Linked DNA regions of Homo sapiens: region 2 is linked to region 1. The links come from fine-mapping of genetic effects on gene expression. Tissue or cell type: whole blood. Region 1 holds a variant in brackets; the other region holds the start of a gene. All regions are shown on one strand. Distances are from middle to middle.

What was found. PIP is the estimated chance that this variant, and not a neighbour inherited with it, causes the effect.
Region 2: CRADD starts here. The variant in region 1 is fine-mapped to the expression of CRADD in whole blood (TOPMed, PIP above 0.99).

What each region holds. Positions count from the first base shown.
Region 1 is chr12:93,734,827-93,743,015 of GRCh38, forward strand. The region is part of intron 2 of CRADD (CARD and death domain containing adaptor protein); the gene reads left to right. CRADD-AS1 (CRADD antisense RNA 1) reads right to left here and starts at 2,997. Exons shown (of 3, transcript NR_110092.1): 1 at 2,873-2,997; 2 at 739-907. RefSeq lists enhancers at 6,492-7,448, 7,449-8,189 and silencers at 7,492-7,661, 7,692-7,781. The variant T/A (reference allele first, on the strand shown) is at 3,584.
Region 2 is chr12:93,673,938-93,682,105 of GRCh38, forward strand. It overlaps CRADD (CARD and death domain containing adaptor protein), which reads left to right and starts at 3,438. Exons shown (of 3, transcript NM_003805.5): 1 at 3,438-3,535; 2 at 4,832-5,135. The coding sequence starts at 4,838. RefSeq lists enhancers at 2,679-3,494, 3,283-3,522, 3,495-4,309, 5,126-5,940.

The sequences.
Region 1 (8,189 bases):
CCGTCTTCCCCCTATCTTCACCAAGCTAATCCCACTCAACTCACAGATCTCAGCTTTCATGCCACTTCCTAGGGGAGGCCTTCCTCATCCCCCTGCCAAGGTTAGGTCCCTGTACCATATGTGCTTTCTCATAGCACCCTGTGATTTTCCTTAATGACTCACCTATCACAATCCAGGATTTTGTTGACTGTCTGCCTCCCCTTCCTGTAAAGGTTAGAGGGTAAGCTCCATGGGGGCAGAACACTAGTTATGTCATTTTCACCGCTGTTTCCCTGGCTAGCACTGGGCCTCCTGTAGGCCCTCCAAAATATGCAAATAAATGAATGAACAAACACCCTGGCAGCATGGAAACCCAGAGCGGCACAAGCGAGTTCAAATGCTTATGGTTTGTTCCATCTCACTTCCCTCTAGGATGTGATTTTAGCAGTGTAGGCAGCTTACGAAATGGGGCAGGTTTCTTGTGTTTTACTAATGTGTAAATAAAGATAGAGTAACTCTTAAGATATGGAAAGTTTGTAAAGTGGCAGCAAAAAGTGACAAGGTGTGGGGATCCAAATACAGAGCCTAGGGAAAATAGAATAAACCAAGTTGTTTTTATGTCTCTTTTCCATTAGACTGTGAGCAAGCTGAAGTCGAGTCCCAGAACTTATTTATGTTTATATCCTCAAAGAGACTATAGTGCCTGGTTCATCGTAGCTGTGGAATAAATGTTGAATGAATGAATGATACACCTCTTACCTTTGAAGCTGACTTCTTGTGTTCTTCATGCTGACATTAGAAATAGGAAAAGTCAGTCGAGTACAGTAGTTCAAGCCTGTAATCCCAGCACTTTGGGAGACCAAGGCGAGAAGATCGCTTGAAGCCAAGAGTTTGAGCCCAGCCTGGGTGACAAAGTGAGACCCCATCTCTACAAAAAGAAAGAAAAGAAAGAAATTGGAACCGTATTATTTGTAGAAAAAATACTAGATCTAGAACCAGAGACACCTAGGTTAAAACTGATTTAAAATGAGAATAATTATTCCTACCAAGTGGAGTTGTTGGGAGGGTGGTATACATATAGATGGTGTATATAAAGTGCATAGCAAGCTGGTTGTGGTGGCTCAGGCCTGTATTTCCATCTAGTAGGAGGCCGAGGTGGGATGATCCCTTGAACCCTGGAGGCGGAGGTTGCAGTGAGCTGAGATCACGCCACTGCACTCCAGCCTGGGCAATAGAGGGAGACTCTGTCTCAAAAAGAAGTGCATAGCAAGCACCAGGCACATCTAACAGCTCCTCAGAACATTTAAGCTCCCCTTTTTTTGCTTCTTTCCCTTTGGTATAATTTTAGAAAGACTTTTGGGGAGCATGACATATAAATCATTAAAAAAGAGAGAGCCTCAAAGCAGAATCATGGCAATTGAGCTAGATTTGTATTTATCAAAGCAAGCATGATGCTGGGATGCTTAAATAACAGTACAGTACATTGCAAAGGAACTAGGGAATAATGTTCCTATTATTTTTGTCCATGGTCAGCCTATTACTAGAAAAGAGTGACCACATTGATTTCTAAAGTCCTTATATTCAAAACTTTCTGTGCTGACCACCATCATTTATGTTTTTCCCATCTCTACTTAAAAACGTCAACTAGCCCCAACTTTTCCTCTAGTTATTTCTTTTATTAGATTTATTCTGTTCTCCACAATAAAATCTATCTTCTGTTCCCATCCATGACAATTCAAGTAGTTATAATGGGTGGATATAGGGTATGATAAATGTTGGTAAATCCACTGAGTTCCTTGAGTTCCACATTGATGTCTTTTAGGATGTGACTAGGGGTAGGCTAAATATTTTCTAGTTTCTCAGATCCTACCCCTGGTCTAATTATGATATAGAGGCCAGATTAGTGTCACCAGTTTTTCTTTCTCTTCTGAATGTAGAGCAAGAGCAAATGATTGCAGATAACAGCATGAGAAACTTAGGATCAACCACCAGCATCTAAGTGAGTCTTGTACTAGGCTCATTCCAGTTAAAAGCTGTAAATCATTTCATAGCCACATCAGTTTAGTTCTCTTTTATAGAACTCATTATGTGATACAAAATATGCAAGGCACTGGAGATACAAATACAATTATTTCCTCAAGGAACTTTGAGTTGAGCAAACATGGTACTGTCTGGTGAGACCAGACATATGAGCAAACATAGTACTTCTCTGGTGAGACCACATAGAGAAATGTACAAGGGGTAGAGGAGGCAGTGATGACTACTGGTCTGGGATAGTTGAGGGAAGGTGGCATAGGCTGCCTATTGAAGAATAAATTAGAGTTTGCTATGTGAACAAGGTTGCAGAGGGAATAGTATATGGAAAAACAGGGAGATGTGGACCCATATATTTTGTGCAGAGATGTCCAAGTACTTAGATATTACTATATTGCAAGTATGAAGAAAGCTTTTTTTGAGATCTGACAATGCCAAGGTAGGTTATGGACTCTCTTTGGAGTCCCCAAAATAAAAATAAAACATTCACATCTGCTAAAGATAGCTTGAATGGTATTTTTGCTAAAGGCAGAGTCATATACTGTATGTGCCAGATAAAAGTCAATGTCTATTATGTAAACATTGAGATTACATTAATTAATTTAAAAGAAAGGATTCAAACTTAGTACTAATCTGCATCTGGAGAACTAATCTGGTATGTGTTATTTTCAAGTCACCCAACTAAAGCAGTCTGTTGTATGGAACTCTGCTCCCTCTTAGTCAAACAAATGCAACCATAAAAAGCAGTGCAAATTCAGTGTCACCTTTTCTCCATGGGATTGGGTGGTTTCTTTTGGAGCAGAGAGAGTTTCCAGAGAATCAATATAGTAGCCAGAAGAAAAGTGGAGGGTGGCCTTACCTTGTCCACTCCGTGCTGCCTGAGGGTGAAATGGAACCTCGGATGTTGTACACCTTTAAATTGTCCATGTTGCCTGTTTCATAGCCTTCCCGGGCCAGGGAGCTGTGTAGTCAGTTTATAGTTCTAAGAACCAGAGCAGGACTGCTGTGCTTGTAATTGCATGCTTTTTATGGAACAGGCAATGTTGTTTAGGGAATTTGGGCAGCTGGAACCTGCCACATTAGCAATTTGGACTGAGGAAGAATTTCAGGGTGATAAAATAAAGCTCATTATATAAATTCACTTGGGTATTTAGGAGGCTGAGAAGGGAGAGGATGAGAGTATTCCAAAGGCAAGCAGGAGAGTTTCATAAACAGGTCCCTTTCTATTCGTTTTTACTGTAAGTGTTGAATTGAGCTAGGAGGATCACATGGCCCATTTTGCAAAGGGCAGTCATGTTCTGCTGTTTCTTAGCTGTTTTGTCAGTTGGAACAAAACAACAGCGCTGCTCATTTTTTGCAGGGTTAGAGGAAAAAGGAAGGACTGGCCGAAGAATGGGGTGGGGAGCTGGAGAAGAGAAGGGCCAAAAGTGTCAGACTGTGGGGATGAGGACCTGAAGGAGGCCCATGAGACCTCAGGCATGGGCCCTGGAACTCTGCCTTTTTGAAGCCTGTTGACAATCTCACCCTAATTTAACCCTTTGTGGAATTCTTCCATGAGATGCAGTTGCCA[T/A]CATCAGGCTTCCTAGAGAATTGAGCCTGCCCACTCTGTTATGAAGTCTACCCAGAAGAGCTGGCAGAGTAGGCCCCTTCACTGGGACTGCAGCAACACTGACCAAAGCAAATCCTTCTCTTGGAAGAAACAAACTCATTCCTCACACCTGCCTCACCCCGCTCCCACCGCCACCCCCTGCACCACACGCCAGCCCTTAATAAAAACTAAAACTGATGTCATTGTAACCTTTGGTTATTCTTTTTTGTGCGTAAAGTGTCAACCTCCTGTTTTATTCTCATAAATAATGGAAATCTTAACTTCATTTCAGAAAATCACAAAAGATAACAGGGACCCTATTCAAACAGAATAAAAATAATTAGTAAGTCACAAACTCTGACTAGAAAGAAAAAGAGAAGAGAGAGAGGGAAGGAGAAAGAAAGAAGGAAAGAGAGGGAGAGAGAGAAACGAGGAAAGGAAGGAAGGAAGAAAGTGAAAGAAGAAAGTCCTCTTGTTGGTGTTAAAATGTGTCTTTAAGGGGAAACTTATCATTTAGGTTACTAATGGTTTCTTTCTTCATCATTTTAATTTCCATTAATAAAATGTGACTTTGAAAGGATGCAGGGAGTTTGGGAATAGAGAGTTTTATTTTTATTTGTTTATTTTTTTTCCCCTTCTCCCAGCAAAATACACAGGTATCTGACTATGTAGAGACACGAAGCCACCTATCCTGACCAAACTTGGCAGTGGTCAGGGGATAGGAGGAAGTGTAGTGCCATGGGATGGGCACCAGCCCTGATGAACTCGACTTTCTTTCCATTTCTCTCCTGCATCCAAATGTTGAGGAGACTTTGAGTAGTAGTGTAGCCTCTTTTCCTTTTAAAAATCTGCACCCTGCTTATTTCCAATACAGATATGAGGTTGGTACCCACTAATCTTAACAGGATATATATATATATATCTAAAGTATATAACATATTATTTAAAAACTAATGTATTATTTAGGTTTTATTAAATTATCCTGTTTTTAGGCTATGCTGATGGGCTAAATTTGCCTAAACTCCTGAGATTTAGATTCTCATTTATTGGCATTAGAGGAGTTCCTAAAAAAAAAAAGCTATTAAGATTAAATATCATAAAAATCTTTCTAGGAAAATATAATCAAAAGCATCAAGGCTGTCTCCTACAGTTAGTGGTTTCTATTATTTTGGTTCTCAGAGCTATGACAATGTCACTGGATTTCAAGAATTCAGAAAGACAAAAAGAAAACTCATAATTTTGAAATGGGGAAAGGGAAAGATCTTGGACATAGTCTTCTGTTTTTAAAATAGTCATTCTCATTTTAAAATAGGAAAAAAATTATTTTTCATTTAACAAAGCAAAAAACCCAGTCTGTACTTTTAAATTAATGCAAACATCAATATTTTATAGGGAGAACATTAATAATCATTGTGGAGCCCATTAATCACAATTCTGCTTTTGATTTATTGTAAATATGCCTCCCATTTTCCTCCTCATTACCAATCACCTTCTTTAATTATAAGAGGGCTTTCATTAAAACTTTTGAATCATTTATTTTGGAGCACCTAACTTTAGAAGACATTTATTGATTTTTATAGCATAAAATACAAATGTTTTTATTTTAGAAAACATCATAAACTAAAACTTTATTGGAGGAGTTTGGCTAAAGATTCAAAAATATATAGAAGTAAAAATATATTTAAAACTGCACAGTTTTTACAACAGCATGTATGGCATTTGGATTCAGAATTTTAACTAGCAGTAACCTCATCTGTTTAGTAATGAATTTTAAAATAGAAAAAAAATCTGCCAAAACAGACCAGTTGTTTATTAGCTATTTAACTTTGATGAGCTGAAATGAGATAGTGAAGCAGAATAATTAGAACAACTTTTTTTCTCAACATCTAAATATTTCTCTTTTTCATTAACATTTCAGTTAAGTTTGAAGAAATTCCAAAAATGAGATTCTCATTAACTAAAAGGAATTCTAAGGGTTATAAGCCATCTACATTTTTTCTATGACCTGAAGACTTTTTTTCGAAAACCAATTTTGGGGGAGGATTGTCAGATTTACCTAAGGTTTTGGTTTTTAATTTAAAAAAATTTAAAGAAACTATCTTAGTGATTTTTGTCATCATTTTTATTTGTTGCCATGATTAATATATGGAAATAAGATAAATTGGATTCTATTTCTGTGAAAGCCATATTCTTAACATCAATGCCTACCTAAAAAATATACGAGTCACACTTGATCATTCAGAATCATTTTGAAATTCTCTGGTAATCTTTTAAAAAGCCAGCGTTGACTAGTATTATGTGGCTAGTTATATTTATTACAGCAGTCTAGTTATTGTTTGTGTAACTATAGTTTTTTTCTAATAGAAATAAAATGTCTATTTGCAGGATAAAAAGAAGTATGTATATTTGATGATTTTGTTGTAGAAAATACTTAATACCTTTTAAAAGCTGTTTGACTTTCGGTTTTAAAACAGCTGTGTAGCTTGGTGAGTCCTGCAGATTCCGGCTTTCTCTGTGGCCTTTGAGCCAAGTAATTTTTTGCAACATTTTCCTTTGCTTTCTTATAAACACTCAAAAATTATACTTGCTTTTCCTGAAGGCCAGCTATTAAGTTAGAAAGCACCAAAGGTGTTATGAAATTGCCCTTTATTTTTTCGTACATCAGGGAGGAATGATAGATTTTGTGTATCTCTTGTGTGTCATTAGAACAGAAATATTTAGGGCTGCTAACTCCCGGAGTTGTGTACTTACCCTTATTACAGATGCAATGATTTTGTCTGACTGCATTGCTTTAAGATGAGTTTTATTGCTTTCATGCTTAGGCAAGGATATTTAATTTTATTTGTGTTTAGAGTATCTTGTTGTAATATACTTCTCCCCCATCTTGTGCTCCTAAATTTGGGATAAGCATAGAATCCTTTTAAGAATGTAGGTTATTTTCCAGTTTACTAGAAAGCATGACACATATAAATTAGCGACTAAGGATTATAGCGTCCTTTCCTAAAGGTTATCATGAAAAAAAGTTAAAATGTCAAAGAAGATCCTACTCCAGTAAAAACAATTTACTCTGTAAAATCCTGATACCTCATAGGAAGCTTTGGATCTTGTTCTCAGCTACCAAAATTCTTTAAATATGAAAGTTAACATGACAGGAAAGTGGAATACACTCTGTGCTGAAGACCCACTGTTCAAGGTGTGTGGTTATTAATCTGGGTTTGAATTTACAAATTATATGGTCTGATTAATTTGTAGATAGGGGTCGGTGGAGGTTAGACGATGGGCTTTAGAACAAAGAGGCTGATAAAATACTACTCACAAGCCTTTCTGCTTGTTTGTGACTCTCTGGAAATGCCATTAGATAGTTCTCATAGCTATGGTCAAAATAAGTAGGCTTAGAAATAAAAGACATTTTCTCCCCTGTAAAAGGAGGCGGCTGGCCTGTGCTCTTTCTAGGCTCTTCCCAGAGACAGCAACCTCGGCTTCTGAACCCTTAGTGCTCATTCTATGCTCCACCGCGTCTCCTCTACACGCCATGATCTTTGTTATCTGATTTGCTAGCCATTGTTATGGAAAGTTCTCGACTGTAATGCAAAAAGCTCAGCCTTGGGTCCTTGCTAATGTCAGCAACCCAAAGGCGCCCCTCAAACCACCTCGAAAAGAAAAATCCTTTAAAAGATGTCAAACTCTCCTTTCATGTTAGCCCAAAATGAAGTTCCCGAGCAGCATCTGGCAGAGCAGGGTAATTCAATCTATTTTAATGCAAAGATTTTCCAAGAAGGCAGGAAGCCGTCAAGGAGAAGGCTTTGAGGCATCTGCTGTTTTGTTTCCAGATCCCTTGTGTTAATTTAATGTTTCTAGGGAACCCGGCTCTTTCTTTTTTCTCGGAATCCCTGCTCTAGGAACTGGTGAGTGCGGGGGCGCTGTGGGAGCTGCAGATAAGCCAGCGCTTGGCCGGGCACCCGCGGGCCGCGCAGCGGGGCAGGGAGGCGCGCGGCCCCAGCCGCCCTAGGGCGCCGGCTGCCTCTGCGGGCCCCGGCTGCCCAGCCCAGCGCGGGGAGGCGGCGCCGACTGCCGGGGGGCGCCTGCAAGACCTGTTTATTTGCATTTGTCCAATTTGGCTCAAGTGAAAGGTAAATACGGAGCGATCAGCTTGTCCTCACTCCAGCAAAACCAGGGAAACTCAGCTCCATCTCCAGGAAACAAACCCAACCCAAACCTGAGTGAAACGTAAATCTTGCATAAACAAACACGTTCTTTTGCTTCTGGGAAGGAACACCGGAGAAATGGGCATTCCTTCCGACTGCCCGCCTCCCACTGTCGGTAAAAATGAGCCGTCACAGGTTGCCGGCAATTTCTTGTTGTGTCCCGAGCCATTCCGCGGATCTTGTTTTGAAGGGGCGAGTCAGGTGTTTGTGCGGCTCCAGATCCTGAACAGGTTATGCGCTGGGTCCTTCCTTATCAGGAGGGGGGTCAGGCTGCCCTCCCATTCTCATCTTCCGCCCCAGACCAGAGGCTACACCAAAGTTCACTTTTGAAAAGAAATCCTGCAGAATTAAAAATAAATGTCTGCCCTTTAAAATAGTTTCGT
Region 2 (8,168 bases), 61 kb before region 1:
GCAAACTCACAATAGGGATATCTTGACACAAGTAAACATACTAGGGGAGAGAGAAAAATGAAAATATCTGTCCTTCCTGTGGATTCGTTACCACTGGGTAACAGGTGCTTAATCCTCCGTGGGGGCACAATTTCAGATTACAGAGGGTCTGGCCAGAGCGGAGGAGTAACCACCTGTGATAATGATTCTGATCTGTGTTCCATTCCTTAGAAGCCCTCTGGCCTTAGCTAATCTGTCTAAGTAAAGTTGGGTCTTTGGTGTACTGCCATGAAGTATCGCTGTATGCTGAGGTGGGGTGGCTGATGGCAGTGGGCTAGTCGTTCAGCCTAGTTGCTTAAGAGACAGCATGGATCCTCATCTGTATTTGCCATGGGAAGAGGCATTCGATGATTAAAGACTTCACGCTGCAGATTTAAGTCAGATCTTTAATGGCCACCCTTTCAGGTTGTTTACCATAGGACGCCATGCCCCTCGGCTGCTGCCCTGACACTCTCCTGCTGTCTCTGGCTGCTTCTCTTCTGTGAACCCTCACGGATCCTATTGTTGGTTCCCCACCTCCTCCTGGGCATCATCATCAAGGCTCACCTTCTAGCTTCTAGGAGATCTCAAGCCTTTCCAAATATGATGAGTCATCAAGAAATATGAAACTTTATATGGGCGTTTATTGCGCTATTTGTTTCAACTTTCCTATATGTTTGAAATTTATCGAAGTTCACAGTTAGAAAAAAATCCACTTGCTTTTCCTCTCTAAAAAAGTTAGTATAGGTTGATGATCCCTTACCCAACATGCTTGGGACCAGAAGTGTTTTGGATTTTGGATTTTTTGGGATTTTGGAATATTTGCATATACATAATGAGGTAACTTGGGGATGGGACCCAAGTTTAAGCACAAAACTTATGTTTCATATATACTTTTTATACACATAGCCTGAAAGTAACTTTATACAATATTTTAAATAATTTTGCACATGAAACAAAGGTTTGTGTTTTGACTGAGACCCATCACATAAGGTCAGGTGTGGAATTTTCCACTTGTGGCGTCATGTTGACACCCAAAAAGCTTCAGGTTTTGGAGCATTTCTTTTTCTTTCTTTTTTTTTTTTTTTCTGAGACAGGGTCTCTCTCTGTCGCCCAGGCCGGAGTGCAGTGGCATGATCTTGTTTCACTGCAAACTCCACCTCCCGGGTTCAATTGATTCTCCACCTCAGCCTCCTGAGAAGCTGGGACTACAGGCGTACACAAGCATGGCTGGCTAATTTTTTGTATTTTTTGTAGAGATGGGATTTCCCTATGTTGCCCAGGCTGGCCCTGAACTCCTGGGCTCAAACGATCTGCCTGCCTTGGCTTCCCAAAATGCTGAGATTACAGGTGTCAGCCACCACTCTCAGGCAGGTTTTGGAGGATTCTGGATTTCAAATTTTTGTATTAGGGATGTTTAACCTGTAAACTTCAACGCTTGGCAGTGTTGCAAGTGGTCTGCACTTTATCTGGATGAAGACAAAGAATGGTGCTAACATTTGTCTATGAACAGATGGGAAATCTTGCTGAGGAAAGGACAATGATTCTCAAGCAAAAGGGGAAAAGGGAGAGAGAAAAGAGAGCACCTGGAACTCAAGAGTATCAAGAATGGGAGGTGGCAACAGGATGATTTGCAAATAATATTTGGCTATCATTAGAACAATAAACTCTTCACTATACAAGGTTGTATGGTGTATTGGAAAGAGCATGAAATCAGAGAAACTTCATTAGACTTCAAGTTTTGCTCTATATTAGCTGTGAGATTTTGCCTAAGACAATTGACCATTCTGATTCCACAGTCTTTATACATGCAAATGCTAAAACAGTTGTAACAGTGGAGATACATTGTGAAAAATGTGTCATTGTGCAAACAAAATAGGATGTACTTATGCAAACCTAGATGGTATAGCCTACTACATACTTAGGCCATATAGCATAGCCTATTGCTCTGACCACCATCATATATGCAGTCTGTCATTGACCCAAATATTGTTATGCAATGCATGACTGTAATAATAATAATACTTGCCACATAGGTAAAAATACTGTCATTAACGGTGTAGTAAAATGGTAACTGGCATAGTAATGCTGTAAATTGAATACAATTTTTAGAAGGTTTTGAGGAGGGAGGTTCAGAACTGTTCTCCATTGATTTGCTTAACAAAGATATTTTCATTTTCCACCAAAGGGTTTGGCTGTGAAAACCTTTGCAGAAATAATATTTTAGGAGTTTTTTCCCCCTGTACTGTCAACTGATTTTTAGTAAGCATATGACTTTCTGTATGTATCATCCAATTGATTTAAAAATGAATCAATGAATGTATTTATTGATCGCCTGCCTCGCTTCACAAAGGAATGTGAGGAAGGACACCCAATTTGGCATTGCTGTGTTTCTCTGTATTTGGGTCATGCATTTTTTCTTGCTTTCCACATTGAAAATGTGGTGGATGCAGTAGATTGGCTTTAAGTGTCAGGCCTTCCCTCATTTACTATACCTTTTTGTGTTTCACAAGCTGGAAAGCTACCAACTACATGCTCTAGACATCCTTGCTGCTAATATTCTGCATGTCAGATTGGTCTCACCAATGGCACGCAGCAAAGCAAGATTTGCAGGTGCTGTTTTCTTGCTGCTGGCAAATGCAGCCGTGGAGACCACCGTTTTTTGCAGCACTGTTCCAGTGTCCTGTTAATTGTTCTGTCGGTGTTGAGAGGAGGTTGGGGACCAGGCATGGCAACTTCCTGACGCCATCTTCCTGATTGTGGGCAGCAGCCACAATCAGCAATCTTATCTAGGTAGTCATCCATGGATGTTCAGCTCAGCCCTTCTCCAGCCTTTCCAATGATTTCGAATGTCCCCAATTCCCCCTAACGAATCCCTTTCTGACTAGGAGTAACTAGCTGAGTGCTGCAATGAAATCCTGACTGACAGATTTGTAAACTCTTTGCGGGCAGGAACCCTTGATATAAATAAATGACCTTGCATTTTAATGGAGGGAAGCAGAAGGATAAACAAATGAATAAGTGAAAAGTTTTAATAAGATGGTGATGCGTAAAAAATAAAGCTGGTTAATGGGGAGTGCAGGAAATGAGCGCAGCTGTCTTGCCGTTTTAATCAGATAGGTCAGAGAAGGCTTCTCTACTAGGGTGGCTTTTGACCTGCCTCTCTGTTAGGTCAATTGTGTGCGAGGCCCTGATGGAGTTACTGTGTTAAAATGCAATGATTCAATTACTCCATTACTTAGATACCCTTTAAGTGACACTACGGTTGTCCATCTCCCCGCTATTGAATTGTTTACCCACAGTAAGCATGGCGGGAAGAGCTTCGATCCGACCCTTGAACGCTCAATAAAAATGGCGACAGCACTTCCTGTACTTGCCCTCAACAAAGATGGTGTCAACACTTCCTGTTTAGGGTTTTCGCCATTAACAAAGATGGTGCTTATGGGGCAGGTTCCCTAACAGTCAGGATTCCGGTTGCAGTTTTTCTCCCCCGCCCCAAAGATACGTGGTTGCAGACGTAAGTAACAGGAATCCATCTTTCTTTGAAAGTCCTGCATTGTAGCGTCTGCGACCTGGGCCCTGCGGGGGCTTCCCCGCCCCGCTAACTTGCTCCGCATTTCCGATCCGGGCCAAGGCTGGGTGGCTGCGGCAGTGCCGGAGGCCCGCTCTCCCCTTGGTCCGCTCTTTAGTTCATTCCCAGCACTCCCTCTTTAGCGGGTCAAGTTGCCGCAGAAACCGCCCGTAGTCTTCCTGTTTGATACAAGGGTTTCAGCGGCCGAAGCAGAGCCTTTTTAAATAGTTCCCAATGGGCGCTCACGGCCAAACGTGAACACCTCCCCTCCTCACCTGTCACCTCCTGAACTTTACAGGGTTGCGAGGGGGAGTGTGGGATCGGGTGTCGCCTAGCCGTGGTCGTACTGCCCGGGTGTGTCTGAAGCCCCATCTGTCATCCCTGCCTGCCTTCCCGGTCACTTAACCTTCACTGCCTTACACACAACCAAGCCACAGCACACTGGTGCAGGGGTGGTGGAACTGCACCTTCAAATCGTGCCTGGCTACTGACCAGTGCTGGGGTGTGTGCTTTTTTTGAAAGAAAAAAATCCCATAAAATGTCCCATGCATGTGCGGCCACGACAGTGTTGTGCTGGAGATTCGGAATTCTTAGTGGGAAGGAATGGAGTCTGTGACTGTATATTGTGTAAAGTTTATTGTAGACTGGGCACAAACAACAATTTTCTTAAAGGTGATCGTGTAGAGGACTTTTAGCGAAAAGAGCCTTAAATTCTGAACCTGCTGATTTCTGTCCTGCACTCCTATTACTGATCAGGTTTTGCAAATACTTGTGATCAAAAAAAGGGGACCTGCGTCCACCTTGGCAGTTTCTGCCTTGGTGGTGGTGGTGCAGGTCTGATGAGGGCAATGTGAAAATAAAACCACCATTTCTTCTCCAGCGTGTTAAAATTAGTGCTGCTCTGTAATCTTCAGATAAAAATTGCTTGTTCAGAAGGGTCTCTGACCCACTTTTTTTTTTTCTTTTTCCAAATTTCTTTATTGAACGAGGAATTGAGCTGGGACCCCATTGTGTGAAAAGCAGAAACAGAAAAGATGATTCATCTTCATTGTTGTTCATTATGTTAGGAAACATTCAAAATTAACCTGGCTTGGCTTAATCAGTGAATTAAATACCATGACCTGGCAGTCTGCTATGGTTTAAAGATGTGCTTGACCTGAAGGAACTTACATTGCAGTGACACTGTCTTTAGGGCCACATCAACATGTCTGTAATTTGAGCTGTGATTTTGGCTCTTTCCAGGGAGAAATGGAGGCCAGAGACAAACAAGTACTCCGCTCACTTCGCCTGGAGCTGGGTGCAGAGGTATTGGTGGAGGGACTGGTTCTTCAGTACCTCTACCAGGAAGGAATCTTGACGGAAAACCATATTCAAGAAATCAATGCTCAAACCACAGGCCTCCGGAAAACAATGCTCCTGCTGGATATCCTACCTTCCAGGGGCCCTAAAGCATTTGATACATTCCTAGATTCCCTACAGGAGTTTCCCTGGGTCAGGGAGAAGCTGAAGAAGGCAAGGGAAGAGGCCATGACCGACCTGCCTGCAGGTAGGCCTCAGAAAGATCACTTTGAACCAGCTCCAAAATGTTGTAACTATGCTCTTTGCTTTTTTGTTTATTTGTTTGTTTGTTTTTGAGACAGAGTCTTGCTCTGTTGCCCAGGCTGGAGTGCAATGGTGTGATCTCGGCTCACTGCAACCTCTGCTTCCTGGGTTCAAGCAATTCACTTGCTTCAGCCTCCCGAGTTGCTGGGAATACAGGCATTTGCCACCATGCCCTGCTAAGTTTTGTATTTTTAGTAGAGATGGGGTTTCATCATGTTGGCCAGGCTGGTCTCGAACTCCGTACCTCAGGTGATCCACCCACCTCCGCCTCCCAAAGTGCTGGGATTACAGACGTGAGCCACCACACCTAGCCAGAACTATGCCCTTTGGATTTGAAGTTGGGATGTAAGGCAGGACAAGGGTCAATGGTTGATGAAAGTGGGTAAGGATTTGGGACTGAAGGGACATGACGTTGGAGGAATAGGATCAGGAGGTGGCATTAGGAAGTGCAGGGAAGGAAGAATGAACCGTGACTGGGAGGTGAGGGAGGGAGCTCAGAGAATGCATTTAGAAATGCTTCCAGGAAACCTGGCATGTCACTTGGGAAGCATGTTCTCATCAGAGAGCCAGGTCATATCTCAGCCGTTGGCATCAGGAGCCATTTGGAAAGTGCAGATGGGAAAGCAGGCATTCGGCCTACTGACAACTGATTTGTGAGGTGCCAGAGCTACCAGCTGGAAAAGGTCAGATTCATGGAGGAGGAGACAGCCTCTAGGAAGGCATGCCCTGCACCTGTCCCCTGGGCTGTCCTGTGTGGCCAAAGGGGATTATTTTGAAGGCTGACTTAGTTTGTTTTTAAAGGTTATTCGTTTAAAGTGTCCTTTTTAGTTTAGCTTTGTTCAGACACTGGAGTATTTAATTTTGCAAAGAGCAATAGTTTGGGGAGGGTCTCAGTTTAATTTGAAGGAGAATTGGAAGCTGGAGAAGAGAGAAACAGTTCTGGTTCTGTTAGCCTGGCTTGTAGCAGGAAGAAGATGTGATATGGAAACACTTGCTTTTTCTTAACCTCCCTTGACTCTGTTTCACAAAGATAGAGGGGCAGAGAACTGAACTGGCAAAAATTAAAAATTGAAAAAAAAAAGTAATTGAAAGTTGGCTTGCAAATTTTTAACAAAGTTAGAGAATCAAGGTTCTCTGGGGTTTCTGATAAGAGTGATAGAACTATTCCGGTTCAGTGGGCCCCAGACTTCGTGGTTGCTATTTTTTAAATACTGGTTAAAAAAAATGAATACTGATAATAAGACCACTTTTACTATTTTTGCTCCATGGACCTCATATTTTGACATATGTCTGAATACCTGATCAGCATGACATAGCCAGCTAACTTTAGGAAGACCTGGTAAGATCCCAGTGGAAAAAGCAAAAGTATTTTCATTCCTAGTCTGGGCTCGTTACAGTTAAATGTATCTTTAGGCTTTTTGAAATATTAGACATAGCTGGCTTTTGAGGACCACTGGAATTCACTGCTTGGATTGTCCTTACAAAATTAAATACTCCACATGTCTGAACAAAATGTATCTAGATGTTTTTATGACTTTATTGAAAGCAGAATAGATAACATAGAGTTGGAGAAATGTTAAAAAATTATTGGTGTTTTCCTGATATTTGACTTAGAGGTTTCTGCTGGCATCATATAGTTGGAAACAACAAAACAGGTGAACTGAAAGCCTTTCACTATCAAAATACTGAATTTAATTTTATGGTCATTTTGGGTGATACAGATCATGCTGTTGTATGTCATTCGTAGAGGTATAATACCATTTTTTTTTTTTTGAGACGGAGTTTCACTCTTGTTGCCCAGGCTGGAGTGCAATGGCGCGATCTCGGCTCTCTGCAACCTCTGCCTCCCGGGTTTAAGCAATTCTTCTGCCTCAGCCTCCCGAGTAGCTGGGATTACAGGCATGTGCCACCATGCTCGGCTAATTTTGTATTTTTAGTAGAGATGGGGTTTCTCCATGTTGGTCAGGCTGGTCTTAAACTCCCGACCTCAGGTGATCCGCCCACCTCGGCCTCCCAAAGTGCTGGGATTACAGGCGTGAGCCACCATGCTCGGCCATAACCCCATTATTTCTTCAGATTCATTCAGAGAGTTAGAAAGAATTAAGGCATTTTTTACAAAATGATGAGAGTTACAGAGAAGCTGAGGAAAAATAGCTTTTTAAAAAAGCAAACAGAATGAAGCAGTACATAATGGGAAAAAAATTGAGCATATCTGTGTAGAAGTTTAGAAAAATAAGGTTTTTCTCAAGATTTGTTAATTCTGTAGAAGGTTGGCTCTGGAACAAATTCGTACAGTCATCTTAATTGTTTTACTTTTTACTGAGTAACACTGCTATTGAAAAAAACATTCTGAAGTGAGGGTTTGATTTATATATGTCTTTGAATACCTTCCACGGTGACAATCACATAAACTCTTTTAAAAAAGACTTGTATTTATTAAATATTGACTATTTTAAATAATATTACAAAATATAAGTAAGATATGGAGAATAATGGTACAGCGAACACCCGTCTCCTCATCACTCAGTTTAAGAAAAATAATATTACGATTGCCTTTAAAAACCCCGGGCACTCCTTCCCAATCTTGTCTCATTCCCAACCCCCACGCAGTGAAAAGCCCTGAATTGGGGGTTTATCATTCATTCACTTCTTCACTTTATAGTTTCCTATCTCCTAAAAATCACTTTTAAAATCTTCATATGTTTTTGAAAATCCTGTATACCGTAAGTTCTAGAGGTGTGTGTGTGTGTATATGTATATATGTATATAGAGAGAGATATATATGTTTTTTGTGTGTGTGGGAAGGAAAGGGTGGAAGTAATGGAAGAAATTATGCATTTAAACTTGATAGTTAACACCTTCTCTTGTTTCAGAACTTAAAATATTTTTTACATGTTTAAAGTAATTTAATTGGTGGCAATATTTTAATTCTAAAATTAAATTGGGATTTACTGAATTGGAAACCTAGGTTTTGTTA